Linked DNA regions of Homo sapiens: all the other regions are reported to be linked to region 1. Evidence: microRNA targets listed by miRTarBase, many of them from high-throughput screens and not tested one by one. Region 1 holds a microRNA gene; each other region holds the end of a gene's coding sequence.

Region 1 (4,317 bases):
ATTGGCTGCAGCCACTGTCCAACCAGTCCCAATGAGATGAACCAGGTACCTCAGTTGGAAATGCAGAAATCACCCGTCTTCTGCATTGATCACACTGGGAGCTGCAGACTGGAGCTGTTCCTATTCAGCCAAAAAGTAGTATAATATTCTTTGAAGATAGACTGTGATGAATTAAATATGAACTTTGTAAACCCTAGAGCAACCACTATATTTTTTAAAGTGACCTAACTAATACGCCAAGAGTAGAGAAAATATAACTGAATGCTAAAAATACTAAATCCACCATCAGGCAGAAAAGAGGAAAATTTGGAATAAGAAAAGGATGAAACATAGAAAACAATCAGAAAGCCAGTAGATTTAAATGCATGTATGTAAATAATTGTATTAATATAAATGATATAAATGCTTCTATTAAGACAGAGATTGTCAATTTATATAAAAATAAGAAACAACTATATACTTTCTAAAACAAAGCCATTTTAAATATGAAGACCTACGTGAAAGTTGGGTAAAAGTAAAAGGATGGAAAATATATTAATGCAAAGAATCTTAGAACTAAAAATCTTACAGCTATTACTATTTAATAACACACACACACACACACACACACACACAGAGCGAGTGAGCAGGCACTCAAATAAATGAACTATAAAGAACCATGGAGCTAAGAGAAATAAAATAGCATTTCCTGTCTTCCAGCCCATTATCTGTCTTGTGTGTATCTTGTATTAATTTCTATGGGTTCTTCCTGCTCCATAGCCTGAAGAAGAAATGAAATTTCTACTCTCTCCAACCTGTTACCCTCTGACTCTTCTCCACTTCTTTGCATCCAGGTTGTTGTATTCTGTGGTTTTTCTGATGGACTTTAGGTGTGTGCAGCACAGCTGGAGTTTAGGACAACAGAAAGCTTTGGTGAGTGGTTGGTCCTTTCTACTTAACCAGTAATTTTATGTTTTTTTTTTTTTTTTTTTTTCTATTACATTTTGTTTTTGTTTTGAGACAGGGTCTCACTCTGTAACCCAGGCTTGAGTATAGTGGCCTGATCTCCTCTCACTGAAACCTGACTCCCAGGGTCAAGGTGTACTCCTGCCTCAGCTCCTGGGTGGCTGGGATTATAACAAAATAAAACAAAAATCTGCATGTTAAAATCTCACTCAGGGCAGGATGAAAGGGGAGCACTGGGGGCTAGGATTTGCATAATTCCTTGGCATAAATCTTGGTGGCCATGCTAATGTATACACCTATATAGGGACTTGAATAAAAATGGCATGAATAGGGAGCATTTGGTCTGGGATGCCACATTCAGCCATTCAGTGTACAGTGCCTTTCACAAGGAGGTGTCATTTATGTGAACTAAAATATAAATGTCACCTTTTTGAGAGGAGTAATGTACAGCATGCACTGCATATGTGGTGTCCCTAGGGATGGGGCTGTAGCTGCGAGCATGGTGATGCCTGTTTTGGATCCTGTGCACCCACTCCTCAGTGCTGGGCTACTTCAAGGAACTTTTTGTGCCTTCTAGACGACTAGACATAGGAACTGTGGACTCCTGAGAAAACGCATGCACTCAAGTTCTTTAAGAATTTAACTATTTTTGCCAAATGAGGCTTGGCTCAAATAAGAAATACATTGTATAGAGGCCACAGCCATTCTTCGTCAGCTGGAAGGTTGTACTCCAGATTCCTAAATTCTCTAAACTTTTCTCTCTTGTCAACTAGTCATCATTTGCAAGGCTTCTCCTTTAGAGCTCCCAAAAGACTCTCCTGCCTCTCAGGTCCCTTCATTGTTGATCCACAGTGTCCATTTGTCTCTCAAAGACTAAAATGTTTTTCATTGACTTTTAAATTACCTTTCAAAGCTATATGTCACCAGTTTACAATGGGTTAAGCATAGTCCATCCAAGAATATTTCATTCTTTTTCATTATCTTTTTCCCCATTTTTTAAGAATACACTTGAAGAATGAAAGGGTGTGACAGAACTGATACTCAGGAGATGTCTCCCAGGCTTCTCTCTCCATTTTCTTCTGGTGACACTTCTTAACTTTTAACCCAATGGAGAGAGAGAGAGAGGGAAATAAATACACACACACACACACACACACACAGAGAGAGAGAGAGAAAAGGAGGGAGAGGGAGAGAGAGAGACAAGCGCCAGACTGTGTGATGCCTTCTGCAGCATGAAACCAGTATGCATGTTTGGGAAGTAGGTTATAAATAAGCTACTTATATTGTGGAAATGTGTAAAAAATGTTTTAGAAATAGTAAGTGATTAATACAATTTTGATTCCAACTGAAATAGAGGCTACAGCATATACACTGAAAGGGAAAAACTGTTAAAAAATTACTATATGGTTACAGGGAGGATTTTAGTTTATGTTTTTTTTTTTAGATTCAGAATGGATGAATATGTGTAAGACCATTAGTAACTGAAAGTAAAAAAAAAAATCTGTTGATGTATCTTTTCCATAATGAAACAATTGCACTAATAGAATACAAAGAATCTTTGTATGTGTGTGTGGGTCGGGGGGAACATTCTGAACAGTAAAAAAATTCTGTCAGTTTGAAATACTGTATGTACGTAGAATTTTCCAAAGTGATAACTCCTCTTAGTATATAGTTTCTAAAACTGTATTATAGTGAAAGCATGTTACTTATATAACTTTAAGTGATATCCTAAAATGAAAGTAAGAAAATTTAGTTGTTATCGTATCTCTTTTATGATTTACTCAAAAAGAATAGTATATTCACTGGTATTTATGTTTTCTTTCAGAGAAATTCTGTTTTGTATTATTCATCCATGTTTCTACCAATTTATTAAGGTTTAACTGACATAAAAGTTGTATATATTTAAGGTATACACCATGATGTTTTGATATATGTGTACATTAGGAAATGATTAAATCAAGCTAATTGAAAAATAAAATAATATGAACATAAAATATTTAGGTGAAATTCTAAGAAAAAAATTACAAGATCTCTGTGGTAGGCAGAATAACAGCCCCCTCAAAACAATGTTTACAGAGTAACCCCTGAACTTGTAAACAACACATTTTATTGCAGAAGAAAATTTGTGCATGTGATTAAATTAAATATTTTGAGATTGGGATTATCCTAGATTATCTAGGTGAGCCCAACATTATCACAAGGGTCCTTATAAGTAGGAGAAAGGCGGTTAGAATAAGAGAAACATTGGAAAAGGCTATAGTATTGACTAGAGGTGGAGGTAAAGTCCATGAGCCAAAGAACGGAGAAAGCAAGTAGCATCTTCTTCTAAAGACAATCAAGTAGATTCTCCTCTAGAGCCAACAGAAGGAACAAAGCCCTGCCAATGCCTTCATTTTAGCCAAGAGAAACCTAATTTAGATTTCTGACCTTTAGACCCTAATATAATAAATTTGTGTTGTTGGAAACAACTAAATTTGTGGCAATTTGATTCAGTATCAATAGAAAACCAAACACATCTGTATGCTAAAAGTGTAAATACACTAGGAAATCAAATAATTCCTAATTAAGTGGAGAGGAGTATCATATTTATGGATCGAAGGATTCAAATCTATAGACTTATAGAGTTCTATTGATCTCTAGAGGTAATGCAATTCCAACCAATGTCGCAGAAAAATATTTGTAGACATTACCATGATGATTCTAAAACTGATATAAAAGGCAAATAAACTAGAATATCCAAAAGAGTCTGAAAGAGAATCACAAAGTTGGAGAATTTACACTTGTAATTTCCAGATTTACTGTCTAACTAGATTAGCCAATATAGTGTGGTACTGAAGAAAGGATGGACAAATAGAAGGACCAGAAATATACATATATGTCACCAATTCATTTAGACTAAGCTGTAAAGTCAGTCTAATGAAGAAATGATAGTATTTAAACAAGATACTGGAAAATGTGATATATATATATATATATATGAAAAATATGAACCTCGATCCATATTTCAAACCATATACGGAAAATAACACAATTTTAGGCCAAAATGTCCAAGTATAAAATTTTATGAATAAAAGGCAGAATATATATATATTTTTTTATTTATATAGATATTTATTTTTAATCTTCTTTACCTTTCAGTAACTTTTTTCCCCCGATAATATACCATAGGCATCCTATCAATTATTATATATGATATCAAAATATAAAAGTAAAATTAAAAATAAGTTGATAAAATAGACTTTGAAAAAATTAAAATTTGTCTTCAAATCAGACCACTGAGATAATAAAAAGGCAATCTACAGAATACTAAAAATATATGTAATTTAATAATGTGATAAATAACATATATCCAGCATAAATAACTACATATAA
Region 2 (4,000 bases), not on the chromosome of region 1:
TTCATTGTCACTTAAAAGTCAATTAATTGTCATTAAAAGAACCAGGCTGATTACTGTGGGAGCCAAAGTACTTCACATACTACTCACATTTGCTATATTTTTATACGGTTTCAAAGCATATCTATCTAGGTTTACATAGTAATTGCATAACCAGGCCATGTCATAACTTTTGCAGTTGGAAAGGTCTGAGTCTGCATCCTGGTGACAGGCCTGGCAGCATACATAACCTTGTGTCTTGGCCAACTTGTTATCCCAATTCATACTGAATACTGTATTGAATACAGAATGATAACTAGCTGGGCGTGGTGTCCCACGCTTGTAATCCCAGCACTCTGGATGGCCAAGGTGGGCGGATCACCTGAGGTCAGGAGTTCAAGACCAGCCTTGGCCAACATGGTGAAACCCTATCCCCACTAAAAATACAAAAATTAGCTGGGCATGGTGGTGTGGGCCTGTAACTTCACCTACTTGGGAGGCTGAGGCAGGAGAATCACTTGAATCTGGGAGGCAGAGGTTGCAGGGAGCCGAGATGGTGCCACTGCACTCCAGCCTGGATGACAACAGCAAATTAGCAAACTCCGTATCAAAAACAAAAACAAAAACAAAAAACAAAAAAACCATTATATAGAATAACTAAATCACTTTTTCCTCTCCCATGGCTGACTGCTGATCTCATTTGTGAGAGCATCTTTAATAGGCTGGCATCTAGAAACAGAACATGTTGTATCAATCTATCTATGGTATACATGCACAGAGCAAAGTAAAGGTATGACAGCACTTTTCTGAAGCTTATTAATTTTACCCAGATGTTATTAAATCCATAACCCATCTACCAAGAAGGGAAGTGACAGAAAACCAGACACTGATTCGTCTGGGTATTACAGTCCCCAGATGCATGGCAGAAATGAATTTGAATGCACGTATTGATTATTCATGAAAAATCCATATTCCAGTAAAAACATTATCAATTAGGGCCAGGTGTGGTGGCTTACACTTGTAATCCCAGCACTTTGGGAGGCTGAGGTGGGAAGATCACTTGAGCTCAGGAGAGACCAGCCTTGGTAACGTAGTGAGAGAGACCTCATCTCTTCTAAATAAATAAATAAATAAATAAATAAAATAAATAAATAAATAACATTTTAAAAATCACGCCTCTAATCCCAGCACTTTGAGAGGCTGAGACTGGCAGATCATCAGGTAAGGAGTTCGAGACCAGCCTCGCCAACGTAGTGAAACCCCATCATCTCTATGAAAAATAGAAAAATTAGCCAAGTGTGGTGGCATGCACCTGTAGTCCCAGCTACTCCGGAGTCTGAGGCAGGAGAATCACTTGAACCTGGGAGGCGGAAGTTGCAGTGAGCCAAGATCACGCCATTGCACTCCAGCCTGGGTGACAGAGTGAAACTCAGTCTCCAAAAGAAAAAAAAATTAGCTGAGCACAGTGATGCGTGCCTATAGTCCCAGCTACTCGGGAGGTTGAGGCAGGAGGATCACCTGAGCCCAGGAGTTCAAGGCTACAGTGAGCTATGATTGCACCACTGCACTGCAGCCTGGGCAACAGAGCGAGAGTGTCTCAAAAAACATTATACACTAGAATGGGAAAGAACTAAAGTAAAGTATTCACCACGACTTTCCCTTTATAAAGGCTCTTTGTTGTTTCTCAAATTATTGTACACATTTAAGATAACACCATACCACCGTCTGGAGGGAGCTGACATACTCAGACATACTCCTGAGGCGCATCAGACCCAACCAAAAGGATGGAGAGAAAAAGGCCAGAGGAACTGCTCCAGTGATTAGGGAGTAATCAGCAATCAATCAACTCCCCAGCCTTCCAAAAAGCTTACAAATGTCATTAAGGATGTAAGCATTATGGTCCTCTCTCTTCACCCCAGATTTACAAGGAATTAATTAGGTCAGCAGCATGGAATTCAGACTATGGATACAATATTCTTCAGACTACGGATAGAATACTGTCATTAAGGTGGGTTTGCACTGAAACAAGCCACATTACCTGGCTTTATCTTCGTTAGCTTCAGCTATTCAGAATAAGTTGTAAATATGGTTAAAAGGTGGCTCATGCAAGAGCAAGAGAAGCAAAAGGTTTTGAGGAAAAACAATCACCACAGACTTTGGGATCCTGGCAGGCTTTAGGGGACCAGCAGGTGGTACTCTACTCCAGAATTAACACCTTGGCTTTCACTTAATTTTACATCAAAATTAAATCAGATGGAACATATGAAAGCATTAGACAAAAGCCACTTTATCAGCTGAGGCACATTTGGAAAAATGGTATTTAAAAAAGTCAAAAGCTCACCAAAGAAGGTTCACAAAATCATCTGAAATATTCCTCAGGCCAATTTTTCTTTCTAGCCAAGTAGTCATTATCCATCCCATGATAAGTATAGGTAATTAATGTGAAATGCCACATGTAGGTAATTCACATGAAATGTAATTGCTCACATTCCTGGCTGAACCTTGCCTGAAGTGGAGGGTGTTGTAACAGATTACATGGAGCTAAACGATGGTGACATAAGGAAAAACAGTATAAACTAAGCAACTTGCAAGGTGTCACAACTTGGACTCCCACTTTTTTCTTTTAAGCTGAATGCTTTCAGTTGAGAAGAAAGGCTATCCTCTCAATATCCTGCAGGTGTCAGTGGAGAGCTACATCTTTCCAGTAACTTAAAGGGTTGGGAATATGTCAGCCTTAACCAACCGACAATAGCAGCCAGCTATTAAAACCAAGACTTCAAATTAATTAAAATAACTTTCTAAGGTCATACAGTAAGTGGCAGAACTCATATTTATACCCAGGATGACTGACTTCGGGCTCTTCTCTGCCCCCAGTGTCATGCTTGTCAACAGAGGGAGTACTCTGGAAAAAGTCAATTTTTGATAAAGTCCTTTTAATGGAAAATGTAAAACCCCTTTCAACTTTAATGTACAAAGCCATATGTAACACTTGCACTTTAACAAAAGCAAGCCAATGTTTTAAAAAAATACATCATTAAATGTATATATGTATATATTTACATAGCATATTAAGTTTAATATTTAGCTTTAAAAGTTCACATAAATTTTACCAAAATGAGACAATTTTAAATAAATTACACCTTTTGAAAATGTTTAATTGTACAGTCAATAGCTTCAACAAAATATTGAAGTGTCTGTATTTAGTATCTACTTTATATACTTTATACTTTACAAATTTTACAATTATTTGGCAGTAATTTTCTGATTATGACATGACTGCTGTGCGATTCAGCAATTTCCCAGATGCAGGCAATAGCTGGTGTTTGTGTCCTATTCTCACAGTAACTGTCTCAATGTAGTGAAAAATATCAGTAATTTTAGTAAACTGTACAAGGTCACATTTACACTTGATCAACAATATAGCATAGAATTTTTTATTTTTTACCAAAAATAAATACATCATTTTAAATCTGGCATTTTCACAAACATCATATACACTATAATACAAAACAGCTATATAGTGCTGCTTTTAAAATTCTGCTTGTTTTATAACATTGAATCACAGGAGCTGTGACATATGCTATACTGCTGTGGTGTCAGTAACAAGTAATTACTACAAAGAGAATTTCTTGGCACTGATGGTTTTATGAAGCTTAAAGTCAGTGTGCATACATATCATCATTCAAGGTTAAGTAATCCCAGTTCAACAACCTAAAAATATCAAACTGGATCACACTTAATTTTCTTCCATATCCTCTACTTCATCCTCGTGTATCTTCAAGGCTCTCACCATTTCTTTGACTGCATGATACAAAATATTTTTAACCTGAAAGAGATGTTGATATTTCTAATCACTTCAGTTCGACAGAAATTAATTAAAAAATGACAACTTCCAGATTTAAAAAAATAATAGGGAACTAGGAAAGCCAAATATAAGAAAAATGTTTGAAAGTGTTAAGCCAAAAGGGACACTATAAATCATACAATTAAATACATGTTGGTGTTAATCTTTGGTTGTCACCCT
Region 3 (4,000 bases), not on the chromosome of region 1:
TTCAGATGGCTTATATTTAGGTTACATTGGTCATAGATTATTTTTGCAATCTGTGTCTATTCCTTCTCACTTCTCTTCTAACCAATGCCCTTCTAACCCCACCCTAGGACACTTCATATGGCTCTGAGACTGAATGTGTGTGATAATTTTTTTAATTATATTTGATTTTGACTTTGACACTATTTTTTCTTGATCAGGCAGCATGTTGTATTGAAAAGAATCCTGCCAGGGATACCAAATACAAAGGTTTTAGTGTAACTACCATTACTAGATATAAAACTTTAGGTCAATCACAAAGGGCCTCAATTTTTTCAAGTGTAAGGTGAGGGCTTAGACTAGACTATTTCTAAGTGTCTTCCCTTCTTTAAAATCCTTGATCATAACTTCACTATTTGTCATTAAAACAACTTCGGCTTATGGGAACTTTCTCACAGCCTTTCCAAAGTGCAATGAGTACCACACCATAAAGGAACCTTCAACATTACCCATAAACACAAATTCAGATTGGTTGAACACCATATAAACTTGATTTATTTGTAAATTTCAGACCCTGATATGTTATTTTTGTTTAACTGGGAGAACAATTCTCTCATGTAAATGTGAATAAGAAACATTCAAAACACTTAGGTAACGCAATGTTATAAACTGCATTTTTACTATTATACAGTGATTGTCAAGAACAGTCTTTCTGTTGCAGAGAATCTCTGGATCCATATTTATATCCCTTAACTATGACAGACTCCACATATACTTAGCAGTCTCTGCATTGCTTTGGCTGAGCCAAGAATGTCTTGGGAAGAACAGAACCACATGGAGTGTAGATAAGTTTTCCTCCAACTTTATTCCTAATAATTGACAAAGAGATTGAGTGAGGTTATCATTATTTTAATCTCTAAATCTTTGTTCATAATGAAACCTGTTTCTTATCCTTCTCCTAATATACTTTCTCATATTTATTTCCTCATTCTTCTTGCAATATCACAAAAGTTTGTGATGATTATAAGCTAGTTTCTTATAGAAGACCATATAAGTTTCAGTATTTGGAAACATCAGATGTCTAGTTGGTAATTAGGGATTAATCATAAGCATAAATAAATATTTAATTAATATAAATGAAGAAATAGCTCAGAAGCATCACAGCAGAAATGTTTTTCCTTTCAACAAAAGGACAATGTAATAATGAGAGGAAAAGCTTTGGATAATCAGCAGTTATAACACTGAAAAATGTTACAACATACTTGTGCTGCATGGTCATTTTTAATAGCTCCACTTTGATTTTTGCCTCACTATACAATTGGGAGCAAACAACAGTATGAGTGTAAGTGTGTGCGTATGTTTTTCAGCAGGGCCTCTACTGAGGTAGAATTATTAATAAACTCAGTGTCAGTGCCAGAGGAAGAAGCCAAGAAGCCAATACAATTGAACAGCCTGGTGTTCTTAAGGGGGCCCAGGGCCTGGCTATGTTGCCAGCAATGAAAATCCCAGATAAGGTCTTGAGCCGATCAGCCTTTGCAGAGGCATCAAACCTACTCTTGGTGAGCTCTGGCTAGACTATATCAGGAACATTTGAATAGCATGATTGAATTGTGGGGAAAGAAATACAATTCCAGATTCTGGTGTGACCTACAACCAGCACTAGGTCTTGGGCATTCATGAGTCCACCAGTGTTCCTCCCAGTACTTCTTCTTTCCCATGTTCTCTAGGGGCCTTAGATAATCCACACAGATTAAAAATGCAGGGAAAACAACTCCCACTCTGTGACCTCAAACTGGTTTCCTGGTACTGCTATTCTCTATTTTCATAATCTTGAGTCCATTCCCAAGGCTGTAGCCTTAATTCAGGCCACTGGTCAGCACTCAGATGGATCATTGCAGCTCCTCATTACTTGGGATCTGGGATCTTTCCCCTCTAATCTACAAATTTGGGTAAAAATCCCGTTTTGCATTCTTTCACTGCTATCACCCTCAGGAAAGAGTCCAAACTGCTTGCTGTTACATCCAAGGCTCTTCAGGAATTGAATTGTACTTCCACCAGGATCATTTCTGAAAAAGTCTCCCACATGAGGAACCCCTTGCTGCAGCCAAATTGAATGACCTGCAGCAATTCCTTGGATTTGGCTTGCACGGTCCTGCCTTTGTTCAAGCTGCTTCTCCTGCTTGGGGCACCCTTCCTCTTCAATGTTTACCTTCATGGAGAACTTCTATGCATCCTTCAAGACTTGGCTCAAGTTTCTCTAAAGCTAAAATTGTAACAAAACACATGTTGATACGTTGTCAGCTCCTTGAAGGTAGGGACCACATCATATTCATGCTTGTTCCTACCTTAATATTTAATCTCCTATTATTCTTCCTGGGCTTCTTTCTATTATTTGGCCATGCCATGTCTCAGTTCAAATGTCACCTCTGCAAAGAGGCAGTGTCTGCAGTACCGATCTAAAGTAGCACCACCTCATTAACCCAATCATTCTCTTATCACTCTGTTTCATTTCCACTGAAGCATTTGCCAGGATTAGAAATGATCTTATTTATCTTGATGTTAATTTGTTGCCCGCCCCAATTATCCCACCCCTCACTAGAATATATTCCTCTGCCCAGGATATAGGACATTGTCTACTTATTCACCGATGTAGCTCTAGTGTCTACAACAGTGCCTGGCACAAAGTAGTATCAATAAATCTCTTTGGAATGAGCATATTATATGTAGGGTTCGCATCTGAAGAAATACTTATATATAGGAGTATTTTATGAGGAGTTTTCCCAGTGAGTCTAAATAAAAAGGCAGTCATCCAAATCTACCTCTCTCTTGTTTCCACCTCTCTAGCAACTATGCCCTGAGTCATTATTTGAATGTTGTTACCTTTTCCCTTTTATAGCTTTTCTTTGCAGGTTAAGCATCAGTTAAGGCCTTGTCAAGGCCTTTTAGAGCACAGCCACTGGAGCCACACTTGTTCAAATCCAAGCCCTGGCCAAGTATGGCTTTGGCCCAGCCAAATTGGATGACCTGCAGCAACTTCTTGGATTTGGCTTGCGTGCTTCTGCCTTTGTTCAAGCTGCTTATCTGTGCTTCAGTTTCCACATTTATAAAATGATTCCTGCTTCATAAAATTATTGGGATGATTACAAGAATTTGTACAAAACACTCAGAACAGTGCCAGTCATAGAAAATGCAGTATATATGTTAGTCAAACAATACTGTTTTCTGTCATGTAGGGGCAGGACACAATTGACAAATCCAAAATACAGAAGCATCTGTGGAAATGGAATGTGGTATGGAAAGTATGTGTGACAGAGAAATGAGAGCAGCTGGGCATTTGCTTCCAGGAATTCAAAACAATTTATTAATTTTACACTTAGATATTGGTAATGCACACAGAGAGAGGAAATCTAAAAGTTATTTAGAGCACCTCCATGATTTTGTGTTGAATGTTATAAATTTTATTTTAAAATAGCTCAAAACTATCTTGCATTTTAATATTTTAAAATAAAATCTATAATATCAAAATCTTGAGCATTTAAAAAACTGTAAAAACCATGATTCAAGTCAATAATTCTGTGCTTTGAGATTTGATTGGTAAGCATGATTTCATTTGTCTATGAAGAATCTACTCTGTTCCTTTCTGGCTTTTTCAATGCTTTCAAAAGTGATCATTCCTCTTGGCAGCTGCAATTTACTCTTTTCTGTTTCCAGTATGTCCTCAGCTTCACCTTAAATAAAGTACAGAAATACACAAGGTGACAAAGGGGTCATCAGCAATTTGTGACAAAGCCTGATTGCTATATTCCTTGACAGGCTCTAACACCGTATGAGCCATGTCCCCAATCTCACACTTAAACATTTTCCTCAGGAGAAGTAATATACTTCCCAGAGGAAACACAGTGATGAATTCTGAACACCCATAAATAAATCAGGAGCTACAGATGGTATTTTTGACATGTAGAAGAGAAAGAACATCAAGATAAGTAATTTTTTCCCTTGAACCAAAGTCAGGATTCGTATTAAT
Region 4 (4,000 bases), not on the chromosome of region 1:
GGCCAGTTTTGACTTTCTTAGCTTGCTAAAAGGAGTCATATACTATGTATTTTTTTCATGTCTAGTTTTTCTTTTTTGCTCAAAATATGATTTTGCGATCTATTCATGTTCATATATGTACCACTAGTTTATGTGTCTTATTGCTTTGTGACATTCCTTTGTGTGAGGATAGCACAGTTTATTCTATAGTTGAAGGACATTTGGGCTGTATCCAGTTAATGGCTATGATGAACAACTTTGCTAGGGACATTATTGTACAAGTATTTTGATAGATGTGTGCACTTGTATCTGCTAGGTGCATGCCCTGGAGTGAATTGCTCCCAGAGGCATGTTAGCTTTAGCAGATATTACCAAACAGTGCTGTGAAGTGAGCACCAGTTGACACTCCACCAGTGGTGCATGACAGTTCCCCTTCCTTCATATCCTTACCAGAACTTTTTATTTCTCCAGACTTAATTTTAGTCATTCTGATAGATCTGTGTAGTAGCTCTGAGATTATCATTTGCTTTTGTCAGATAAGCAATAAAATTGAGCATCTTTTGAATGCTAATGGGTCATCTGGGTATTTTGTGTATGTCTGTGTGTATGTGAATTGCCTGTATGAAGTGCCTTTGAAATTTTTTGATGATCAAAGAAATGGATTGTCTGTTTTCCTTATTTGTAGGGTTTTCTTTTTACATTTTGGATATAATTTATTTTACAACTACATGTGTCTCAAATATCCTTTTCCAGTCTGATGCTGTCCCTTTTCATTCTCCTAATACCCATCTGATGAACAGAAGCTCTTCATTTTAATGGCATTTAATGTATTAATCATTTAGATTATGATAGTGCTTTTCTCCTGAATAATAATTTTTTTGCTAACTCAGGTCTCTTATAGTGCTTTTAACAAGAGAATAGAGTGGGAAGACATTAAAAGAGGTTTTTAGTACACTTGAAATGGCTTTTAGGACCAAGATGTTGAAACATGGCAATAAAACAGGGAGCTCTCCCAGTTCCTCTTATCAGAGGCCAACCCTGCCCTCCAGGCCCTGCTCAAATTCCCCTTCCCCCAAGAGAGGGCTGCCAACCAGCTTCCCCCACTTTCAGGAAGAGCCTAGGTATATGGGTTAACCCCATACGTTGGGGACTTCTTAGAAAAACTCTAGGTTGAAATGCAGTCCCCCACAATTACCCCTCAAGAATATTCAACTCAGGTCGACAACACAGAAATTAAACCACATGGACAAAGAGTCATTCACCAGATATATTTGAAGTCTAAGCTCTTTGAGCTATACACGTGCACAAATGATTCAGTTGGTGGAAATCTTCCCCTTCCCCTTCATTGTTAAAGTTTTCAAACTTAAAATAGTGCTAAAGAGATTTGCATAATGTGCGTCATGGAAATGCTGAGGCGATTCTGACTTTCACAGTGCTAGGAGGTTCCCTTGCAACACTTCAAGGAGTCTTTCCATTTCTTATCGTTCTCCTAGGAAAAGCCCCTCTTTTCCCCCCTCCCCAAACCCAACCTAGTGAAAGAATTACTTGATCTGAGACAGGTTAACATTGACACAGAGCAATAAGTTTTACTAAGACTAACTCCAGAGGCCATACACTTCATTGTGTTTCTTTTATGACTACACAGAATGGTCATTTCAACTTTTACTAAGTTGTTAAAAATGTCAGATGTGTCTTTTAAAAAACATTTAAAAATCATTTTCAAATACTTTCTCTCATCTAGATTTCTTTAGAACCTGCATTCTGGAAATTCAGGGTAGCTTAAAAAATCAAGTCAAATGACCCACAGATGATTGAGAAGAGTCAGCTTTGAAAGGCTGGATGCTGCAGTGCTCTGCATCTGAATAGCGGAGCCTACTATTTCTTCCACTAGAGGACACCATTTCTCCACTACTAAGTCTGTAGTCGTTTATCATCAATGAAAAACCAAAAACCTCCACAGCAAAGGAAAGTCAAAGCATATGCTTATTGTACACTCCTCAGATTTTATTTTTAAAAGGAGTTTTCATTTTCCTTATGGAAACTCAGGATTTTACAAGCAATGCTCTCCTCAGTTTCACCAGTACTGTGTCCAGTACTATATTGCTATATTCACAGTAAAACGGACTTTAATTTCTGAGTGATCAGTCTATGTTTTAAGTTTCTGATGAAACTAACATACACCTTAGTCAAAAACCACAACAATCCCTCAATCTGTTTGCTGTGTTATTGTTCTTGTGTGTTTTTCTGAGGCTTGGGTAATGAAAGTACTTCCCCACTCCATTGTAATCTGCGTTTGCATCTAAAGTAATTCATTAATGTACAGGAGTAGATGAGGCCTGGCACACATAGCAGAAGGTAATGGTTCTATAGGTGTATCTTCTGTAATGCACTTTGGGCTAGAGAAATAGAAAAATCACACGTAACAAAAACAAATAACTTTTTTGAGCACACGGGTGTCGCGTGAGTAGGACCGGCATACATGTAGCTATCATCCTTCCCCATTTTAACATGCTCAGCTGCTGCTGCATTCTGGGGATTTAGCTTCATCCCAATAATCTACAACTGACACTTGCATCTTTATTTAAAAACAAGTGGTCTTGATAGCAAAGATGTTGGCTAATCATGTATATATTGGCATTAGATGTTTTGTGTCCTTTCAAAATTCAGCATTATCCTTATTAGAGTGTAATATTATCAGAGTATCTGTATTAGTATATGAAGGCATTCATAAGCAATGCACATTATGTTTTGAAGCAGCTAATTGTCGAACAATCACTAAATAAAAAACATCCAGATTTTTTAAAAGCACAGCTGAAACATTTGTACAAATATACAAAGAGAGAAAACAATCATTCAGACACCATGAAACTTTTGTAATAAATAGGTTTGTCTGAAATCAGTCTCTATCACCCTGGACAAGCCTCCCCAACGAGGCTGGGAGAGTTCTACAGGGGAGTGGTGTTTGAAATCTATTGAGGAATATCTTTGGGGCCAAGGTCAATTTTGCCTCCAGGAATTTCAACAGAGCTATGGTGTATTGACTCACAATAGTGAATATACCCAGACTTGTTGAGCTGGAATATTCTGATCATTTTCCTAATCTAGATAGGACATGGCTGGATGCTGACAATCTGTGAGTTATAAGATATCCTCAAATAATGAAAATAAATGCTGGTGATCATGCATGTCCTGGGAATGTTGGGATGCAGAGGACTGAGTGAGACCAGATAGGGATATCTCATGCAGTCAAAGTCAAGTTTACATATGGTCCTATTTAAGTGGCCAGGAGAGAACAACGCACACACATCAGGACTGGGACTGAAACAGCTCACAAACAACACAGGTGCTATTTGTTACTGATGTCTCTGGCTTGGATCAACATGAGAGAACAAAGATATAGGCTGTGCTGATTGTTTAATAAGAAAATACTACTTTTTTCCCTAGAACCTTCTAAATAATGGGTTATACTTAATGGGTATGATATGATCAGGAGACATATCACCTTTTCCTAGCCCTTTTGTCCGAGAGGCTTGATAACAAGGAAGGAATCTCAAACAACCAAACACCCAGGAATTTAAAGGCAATTTTTTTTGACAAACAACAGGGGGAAAAAGCATGATAAAGAGGAGACGGCTATTATCGAGAAGGAGCAGGCAGCTCAGTTGGACACGGAGGGTGGCAGGCCAGGACGCCGAGTTTGGATGATTTTTGGCTTTGGGGAAGTCTTTGGGTCCTCTTCTTCCTCTATGTCACTGTCGCACACGTGCACGACGACACTTGGGGTGGACTCAGTCCCTGCATGGAGCTCATACTTCTCTCCTGAAAAGCAAGAAAAATGGAAGTGAGAAAGAGGGGGGGATTTCAAAAGAGATCCTGGAGCAGGGTCTGCTTAGGAAATGACAGGAGCATTTTCCAGGGTCTCAGGAAGCCTGTGATCTTATGCAGGGATGGCACAGGGTGTTGGCAAGTGGAAAGAGATCAATTTCCTCCTATCCTGGCTCTGCCACTTATCAACTGTGCA

The links. The annotated mature microRNA hsa-miR-513b-3p reads AAAUGUCACCUUUUUGAGAGGA and lies in region 1 at 1,363-1,384, shown strand. An mRNA with a match to its seed (bases 2 to 7 or 8) in the 3' UTR can be bound and repressed. Matches are read on the target gene's strand: a 7mer-m8 pairs with bases 2 to 8, a 7mer-A1 pairs with bases 2 to 7 and ends in A, and an 8mer does both.
Region 2: the mRNA of JMJD1C is a reported target of hsa-miR-513b-3p. The part of its 3' UTR that is shown has no 7-base or 8-base seed match.
Region 3: the mRNA of PLGRKT is a reported target of hsa-miR-513b-3p. The part of its 3' UTR that is shown has no 7-base or 8-base seed match.
Region 4: miRTarBase lists RCAN2 as a target of hsa-miR-513b-3p. Seed matches in the 3' UTR shown: 7mer-m8 at 1,658-1,664.

The regions. Positions count from the first base shown.
Region 1 is chrX:147,196,124-147,200,440 of GRCh38, reverse strand. MIR513B (microRNA 513b) reads left to right here and starts at 1,314; the gene lies at 1,314-1,397. The region is part of intron 1 of LOC105373347 (periphilin-1); the gene reads right to left.
Region 2 is chr10:63,164,333-63,168,332 of GRCh38, forward strand. It overlaps JMJD1C (jumonji domain containing 1C), which reads right to left. Exons shown (of 26, transcript NM_032776.3): 26 at 2,893-3,802. The coding sequence ends at 3,713. Among named protein-coding and RNA genes, the nearest start is that of NRBF2, 33 kb to the left of the region's middle.
Region 3 is chr9:5,354,657-5,358,656 of GRCh38, forward strand. PLGRKT (plasminogen receptor with a C-terminal lysine) reads right to left here. Exons shown (of 6, transcript NM_018465.4): 6 at 3,315-3,704. The coding sequence ends at 3,583. Among named protein-coding and RNA genes, the nearest start is that of RLN1, 17 kb to the left of the region's middle.
Region 4 is chr6:46,219,504-46,223,503 of GRCh38, forward strand. RCAN2 (regulator of calcineurin 2) reads right to left here. Exons shown (of 5, transcript NM_001251974.2): 5 at 1,233-3,798. The coding sequence ends at 3,638. The region is part of intron 1 of LOC105375079 (a long non-coding RNA gene); the gene reads left to right. Among named protein-coding and RNA genes, the nearest start is that of ENPP5, 51 kb to the left of the region's middle.